2 linked regions of the Homo sapiens genome follow. The protein of the gene in region 2 interacts with the protein of the main gene of each other region in a pairwise test. Each region holds a gene or a part of one and is shown on either strand. Other genes may lie near its edges.

Evidence for each region.
Region 1: the proteins of FOXP2 (region 2) and SATB1 come close enough for resonance energy transfer, tested with the Homo sapiens proteins (one study listed by BioGRID).

The regions. Positions count from the first base shown.
Region 1 is NC_000003.12:18,348,740-18,352,666, forward strand, and holds part of SATB1 (DNA-binding protein SATB1), read right to left. Parts: intron 3,457-3,927; coding exon 3,253-3,456; intron 2,670-3,252; coding exon of another isoform or gene 2,574-2,669; intron 944-2,573; coding exon 431-943; 3' UTR 1-430. UniProt on the Homo sapiens protein: Crucial silencing factor contributing to the initiation of X inactivation mediated by Xist RNA that occurs during embryogenesis and in lymphoma.
Region 2 is NC_000007.14:114,690,678-114,694,455, reverse strand, and holds the end of FOXP2 (forkhead box protein P2), read right to left. Parts: 3' UTR 691-3,778; downstream 1-690. UniProt on the Homo sapiens protein: Transcriptional repressor that may play a role in the specification and differentiation of lung epithelium. May also play a role in developing neural, gastrointestinal and cardiovascular tissues.

The sequences.
Region 1 (3,927 bases), on a different chromosome or scaffold from region 2:
TTTTTTTTAAATAAGGGGCAAGTTTCCAAAGATCAGTGTGGAGTGCTACAGAAATAATTATAGGAGAGGAAATCATAATCACAGAAGGTATAATGCTTGTTTGAGGCTCCGGAATAAGAACTAAAAAAAAAACAAAAAACACTGGTTTCATGCTTACGGGGTACACACTTTGGTGCATCCCGTGAACACAAATTTTAATACCAAACAATCCTTGATGCTTCACCTGGGGCTGCCAAGCAGTTTGTAAAACAGAGGAAAACATTTAGTGCAGTCTGTATTATCCTTTTCCAACTTTTCTGTTTGTGCAAGTTTTTGAAGATTCATTGGCCAAACAATGAACAACAAAGGTTTTCTGAGAGAAGACAAGGTGGACTTTTCATTTTGTTAGTAAATACCAGTGGCACTGTTGAACGAAACAAATACTTTTATCTCAGTCTTTCAAATCAGTATTAATGTCTGTGTTTCCTTCCACTGACAGCTCTTCTTCTAGTTTCACTGAAAAAAGGGTGTTAGTATTTTTATCTTGGACACTCTCTTCCAAATCCTTCAGCAGCTCCTCTTCTTTATATTCTGCCACATCGACCTCTAAACCGGAATTGTCCTTCAGTTTGCCGTGGTGCTTGAGATAGTACCGCTGGTTCTGAAAGAACTTGATGATGGTGTACTTGGGAAGGTCGAGCTGGGCAGACAGAGTCTGGATGGCCTCTTCGTCAGGGTACAGGCCCACGTCTTGTATGAAACTCTGGAGGATTCCCAAGGCTTCCACTGAAATTTTTGTTCGTGGCCGGGTCTTCTGTCGGTTTTCCTCATCTGACTCTGCTGGAGAGGCCACCGTGGGTTGCCGTGGGGGGAGCCGAGGGCCTGTCTGTGGCTGCTGCTGTGGCTGTGGAGGCGGCGGTGCCTGCTGCTGCTGCTGCTGCTGTTGCTGTTGCTGCTGCTGTTGCTGCAAAGAAACAAGGAGACAATCAGAGCTCTGCTATCGTGGAGTTCCACACAAAGCCGTCTCCAATCAGGAAAAATGTGGTCCCGGATCCTACATATAGCTTCTTTGATAGGGATGAAGATTTAGAAAGAAAAGGTAGGCCGGCGAAATGGCCGACAGCATTTACAAAAAAATCAAAATGATATGACTAGGAAGGGATGAATTAAGACAGCTTTGGGGGGCTACTGCACTTACTTATCAGAGATCAGCAGAGGAAGTGAAAACTCAGTGCTCTGAAAATGTGAGCCATAAAATTCACTAGAATGATACGCATCAAAGGCGAAGACAGCACATCAAATTATGATGTAAATAATTAACAAAGATTTAAAATGAAGATGGAGAGGAAAGGATTTCAAAGACATTTCAGAAAGGTGAGCTACAGAGCAGCGGGGAAAGAAATTTGTGTTCTGCTCCGTTTCATTGGATGGCCAGGAAGAACAGAAGATGAGCTTATGCTCTTATTCAGTGTTATCTGTCATGAGACTAAAGGATTTCTGATATTCTCACACTTGTGAATTTTCTATCAGACAGTTCCAATTTAATACACACACAATTTCTTACCGAATTGCACTAGGCTGACACTGCAAGTTTTTTTCTTACCTCAAAAGGTTCAATCCACCATACGACAGCTAGCGAATTGTTTTGTCTATAGCAAACTCAGATGTGGTTAGGATTTAAATTTAGTGTATACAGACACTTTTTCATAATTAGTATATGTATATGTGCTACAATTTCCATACACAATTATACATAAATATGTGACACATGCACATACTGTACACTCGATATCCATAATTCTTATCAGCAAAGTAAATCAACCTAAGTGGCAAAATATTAGAATGCTGATACCGTGTCTATGCATTTCCTTTTATACCCCTAAGAAGCAATTTTATTAAAAACAATTTATATTTTCGAATAAGTACTTTTTAAATTAATTAACATATATCGTTCTCTTTTTTGTTTTTGCTAAACAGTAAGTTTTTCAGGCTTTCACGATTATTTTAGTGCTTGATATCCTAAAGGGAAGCTCTTTGTCAACTTGTTTTATCTTTAATACACACTTGAGAATTTTTTTATCCTGGTAGATAAATAACTTTATTACTGTTTTTAGTTATACGTATCTATCTATACACACACGCACACACATATATATAATTTTTCACAGAAATACAAAAAAATTGCAGAATGTAGGTGACTCAACAGAGGTAGAATTTTAGGACTCTGGAAGGCAGTGGCATTTTACTTTAAAAGAGAGCTAAAATCATCCCCTTTAACAAAAATAAGCTATACAACTCAAGTTCAATGACAACACGCTTTCTAAGCAACTGGGGCCCTAAGAGCGCTAATGACTACCTGATCCCAGAACTTTTCCATCTAAATTCACAGAAGAGTGTCTTCAGGAGATGAATGGTGACAAGTCCCATGACATGACAAACAAAGCATAAGGCTGCATCTGCTGGCACAGTGAGCTCTGCCCAAGACCATGGTTAGTAGGGCCTTTACAGGTTTGAAAATCCTGACCTGGGGAGCAGGTCTTTAGGTCACCCCCTCTCTGTGTCCCTTGGTGGCATAGGTAACTGTGCCCGCTCACCTGAGGAGCAGCACCGAGCCATGGTGCAGGGGTCGGCAGGCCTGGTAAGAAAACGCCTCTAGACTCTCCTTTCCCAAGGGTGGTGGGAGAGGGGCTCTAAAGGAAAGACAAACAGAGATGACTCACCCCTAACCTACATTCTGTAAAGTGTGGGGAGACAGCTATTACATACAAGGTGAAGGAAGGGCCAAGGACTGTAAGGCAAGATTCCAATTAAGCTTCCCTCCCCTCCTCTTTCTGGACAGAATCCAATGTATAAAATTGTGATTCTACAAACTTCCTTTACAGCAACAGCGGTTGCTCTTTTCCTCAGGGGCACTGTGGTATTAATTAAAAAATAGGTGGTGTTTTAAATTGTGATTTTTAAAAAACACACAAAAATTTTAAGCTCTTAACACAAAACCCAATACCAACAAAGACACATTTGCCAAACGAGTGTAAAAAAGGGGTTCCTGTTGCTTTGGTGGCTGGGAGATGAGGAAAGAGGAACACGATACATACGCTGGAAAAAGTATGTTAATATTCATTTTATCCCCCTGAGCAAGATGGCAGTGTATTGTTATCTCTTGCTAAAAAGCCTATGGTTAGACTGGCAGGAGGAAGAGAAACGCTAATTTCCCTGCTAAGTTTAAAGCTTTATTTACTTATTGCTATACTGAATTGGCCAAAGTAAACGAACCTGAATCTGCTCTGCTGGAACATGGATAATGTGGGGCGGCCTGTCGCCATGGTGATGCACCGCGTTGCTCTCCTGTTCATAAATGGCATCACGTTCTGGCTGAGGAAGACTGAGGAACCTTCGGATCATGGAGAGGTTCTCCCACAGGGTTCTGTTTTCTGGAGAAGGATCTTCTTTCCAGCGTAACAGCTCGCACAACCATCCCTTAGAGACAAGGGCATAATAGGTCAGTTTGTGCCTATGAGAGGGGCTGGCATTTTCCATTAGGAGCTAAAAAGGAAAAACCCTATGAATTAACTTTTTCATAAGCTCAGAACACACCATTCTGCTTTAAAAATTGTTTTTAACTTGTTAAGAGAGGTTATCTGTGGCTGTCAAGGAGGCAGACTCTGTTTCTAATCAAAGTTCAGATTTGCATCTCAAAGGAGGGACATATTTTTTCAGACTCTGAGGGTAACAGAGCATTTATCACAGATTTTTTAATATATGAAATAGGAGAAAAACAAAGTTGATGTGCTTCAGTCTTGCACAACTTTGCTATCTGACGAGTGGCTGGCCATCTGAGGATACGGAAGTGCCTAAGAGGCAGGACAGATTTTAGAAATAATTTTTTTCTAAAAGGATTTCCTAAGCTTGTACTTTTTGGATTTGAAAGAAAACTGTGTGTGAATATTT
Region 2 (3,778 bases):
AAGCCATTTTTTAATCCTGTGGAAAGTCCTTTATTCAAGGTACCCTTTCACTAGGATGACAGAAAATATTAAGTTATGCATAAAATTAAAAAATTCTCAACAGATTCATTTTCCTTTTACTTTTGATTGTGAGGAGATTTGGAAGTTAGGTTAAAGTAGGAAGTGAAATTTTCTAATGCTGAGGCCCTATCTTGCCTGTTTTTTTCCACTAATATGGGTCTGGAACAGATCCCTAATATCCTAAAAAGCATTTTCTTGGAAGCTACTTACCTATCTCTGACACATTCCCCTAAACCATGGCTGGATGCTGTGGGTGTGACTGATATTCAGAGGCAAAACAAAAAAAGACAATAAAGCAAAAAAGTCATAAAGTTAAAAAGAGTAATCATGTTTTCCCCTGGCATTTTTTAATGTTCAGAATTTATAATGTCAAATTGTATCAGAATAAAAACACGAAAACATGAGATAAGTGTGTGGGGAAGCAATTTGGAACCTGAAGACAGTTTTTAATGGAATGCATTTGACAAGCAGCCTCCATCTTTACATTTGAGTATGGTCTGGTTTATGAATCCCAAATCCCTAAGAAAATAATTTTAAACAAATTGTGGGACATGTGTATACAAATTTATGACTTGGCTCTGGCATGGAAGAATGGTCTCTCCGAAAGAATAAAATCCTATTGGTTATAAATGGGTCAAAAAGAATTAGATTTTTTTATTTATACTTCAGAAATGTAATCAAGTGAATGAAATGGTTTCATATACATTTTTACATCCAACAGCAGTGACACACTGTTCATACATTAATTCTATAGTAAAATGTACATCCTTCTTTTTTGCTAAGTAAGATATGCCAAGTGTTCATGGACAAAAAAACCTTTCGTTGCAACCTGAACTAGTGAAATAACAAGGGTAAGCCATGTTCCTTTCAATAGCTTTATAGACTTAATAAAGCTATTGTCCAAATGTGTGTTAATACTGGCATGTGTAAGATGAAGTCTCAAAATTCTCAAAAATGTAAATGTCCAACTTGAAAACTTTACAAAATATCATATTGGATTTTGCGACTGAATCTGCCCAGGGACATTAAAGTCCAGGATGGTTTATGTAAGTGTACTTCTGTAGCTCTATTCCTAGCTGACTATTCTTCGATTCCCTAATCACAAAGAAATGCATTCTTATGAAGTTAAGCAGCTGTAGACACAGAATGCTGATGACATTTTCTCCATATCTGAGTTATCTAAAGAAAACCCAGTTAGTGGTAATTCTACCAAATACTTGTAACATTCACATAAAATTTTAATTGATTTTCAAATAGTACAACTGTGCCACGAATCCAACCACATAGAATATAAGCCTTAAGCCCACTAGGTTTAAGCAATTGTGTCTTTGTAGACTAAAACTATGTAAAATAAAATCTGATAACTCCCTGGTGTTAGAGGTAGACAGTTTTCTTTCAAATCCTAGGTTTGGTCCTTTATTTTATTCAGCAGTGAAAGCCATGAATACAGAACGAATAACAGCTGTTACAATTCTCAACCATGACTTCTAACGTCAGAGAATTCAAAGTATGAACATAGTACACAGTAATGAAAAGTATCAAAAATTAGTTTACCTCAAAAAAGATAAATAAAACAGGTATATTCCACCAATACATAAACAGATGTTTGTGCTACAGTTTAAAATTTGCTGTATACAAAAGATCATAGTCCCCATAATCAGCTTATGATAGAAGCAAGAATACATGAGCCATTTAAATTGTCAGACATTATGCTTTATAAGGTATGCACAGAAGTTCAAGCAATAAATACATACATTAGTTCAAAGCCTTACAATAGCTACGCAAAGCAGATGCAGAAAAGCAGATTTGCTATTACTAGCAAGCAATGATATAAGAGTAAAAATTCATGAAATGCATTAAAGCAACATTTTTCTTAGAAAAAGTCTGGTCATTTATGGGTCCACCAACATTTTTACATAATATGCACAATTATCAAAATACAGACCAAGCATTTCAGGAAACTCCAAAAAACCTAAAATCTATTTTCAAAGCAATTGCAGTTTTGGAGGTTTTTCTGGTATAATGTGCAAGCAGCTATTTTTTAAAATTGTATTCATATAAAACCCATGCAAAACTCTACAGGTATATGCATTCTGTGGCTGAGACTTCCTTTCAAAAGTTTTCTAACTGAGGTATGCATACTTTAGCATTGTAGTCTTAGGCCACCCTTCTGATGGTACAACTCTCGCAGTTACTTCCAGTCCCTCAAAGCCTTTTGAACATGCACCTGAAAGACCCATTTTTCCTTTCAGATAATCCTTACAGTAGGATCCTAGATGACTGAAAACCATCTTTCACCATACCCATCTTTCTTTTAATACCATATTGTAAACTTCCGGTTCGTTGATCATGACCCAAAGACAAACATAATGAAAAGTAGCAGTTACTGTGACGTTCTCACGTTTCATGCAATCTGCCATAATTGTTCTAATGTTTTTCTTTTTTTTTTTTTCTTTTTTTTTTTTTGCAGAGGTAGAAGCTTTCAGAAAGCCTTTTGGGTAAGTGGGAAAACCCTTTTGAAAGCCGTTATGTCCTTTTATTTGGTGTGATAGATGACTGGGTATCTCTCTAACTCTATTTGCTGACTTCAGCAAAGAATCAATGATGAGCTTAGTTTGCAAGAACCGGTTCCATCACATGGAACGGGAACGTATGTTAAGCTCTAGCAGCCACCTTCTGTCAAAACTGTTTGTAAAGCAATAACCATAATCAGGTTATGAGGTCCCTTGGTTGGGGGAAAAAGTATTATCAAGACTTGGCACAGCACATGAAAAGCAACATGTTAAGTTTCTAGGTTTTAAGCAAACATCTGACTATGCTATTTTCAACTACATCATAACTCATTATCATAGTTTTGGGGTTTGGAATTGTCAAGAAAACCAGCATTCCAACAATTTGGCCTGTGCAAGTCTTTGAAGGGAGTGTATTGTTAGTGTTAATATCCCGTATAAGCAGAGGCAGAATTATATGTAACTTTGGTTTGACTGAAAATAAATACCATGGACTACAATTGCTATAATCTTTGCTTTCAGTGTAAAAACTCAGCTAGATCACTTTAAAATCAATATGAAATTAATTTTTGGCTTTACTAGACCTTTTATGTTTGGTTCCTACTTTTTGTTTTTTCATTATAACTTAAGACTATAAAAAAATAGTACACAACAAAGATTAAGACCATACAAGACATCTTCTAACAACATGTATTCACCACTGAAAATAACTGACTGAATGAGGGAAAACAAAAACACAAAGTACTATATATATAACAATATGCAATCTGCATTTGCATCAAGTACATAATCGTTTTGGTCAGTGATCCACATTTGTTGCTTTCTAGCATATCATAACTTCCACTGCGGATTTTGTCCTCACCTCTGTCTTTAATGAAAGCAAATCTTCATTGCATTTAGATGGACTTTTGGCCTCAGAAGATTACTCTGTGACTGAATTAACATTTTTTAGTTGTGGTTTTTGTCATATTTGTTTCTTTGTTTAGGGCTAAATGAAAAGATCCCAGAGGTCATCAGAAAACAGCAGGTAGTTCATGGAAAAGGTTCCTTTGTACTAATTGAAGTTACAGAAGGCTGACCAAAGCATGTGGCTGCTTCTGTCCTTGAGCTCTTGGCCATGGTTAGAGTTGGCTTTGGTTTGCAGCTGTAGCCTTTGACTGTGTTTGCAGGTAGACAAAGCTTTATCACAAGGAGGTAAAGAGTACAGT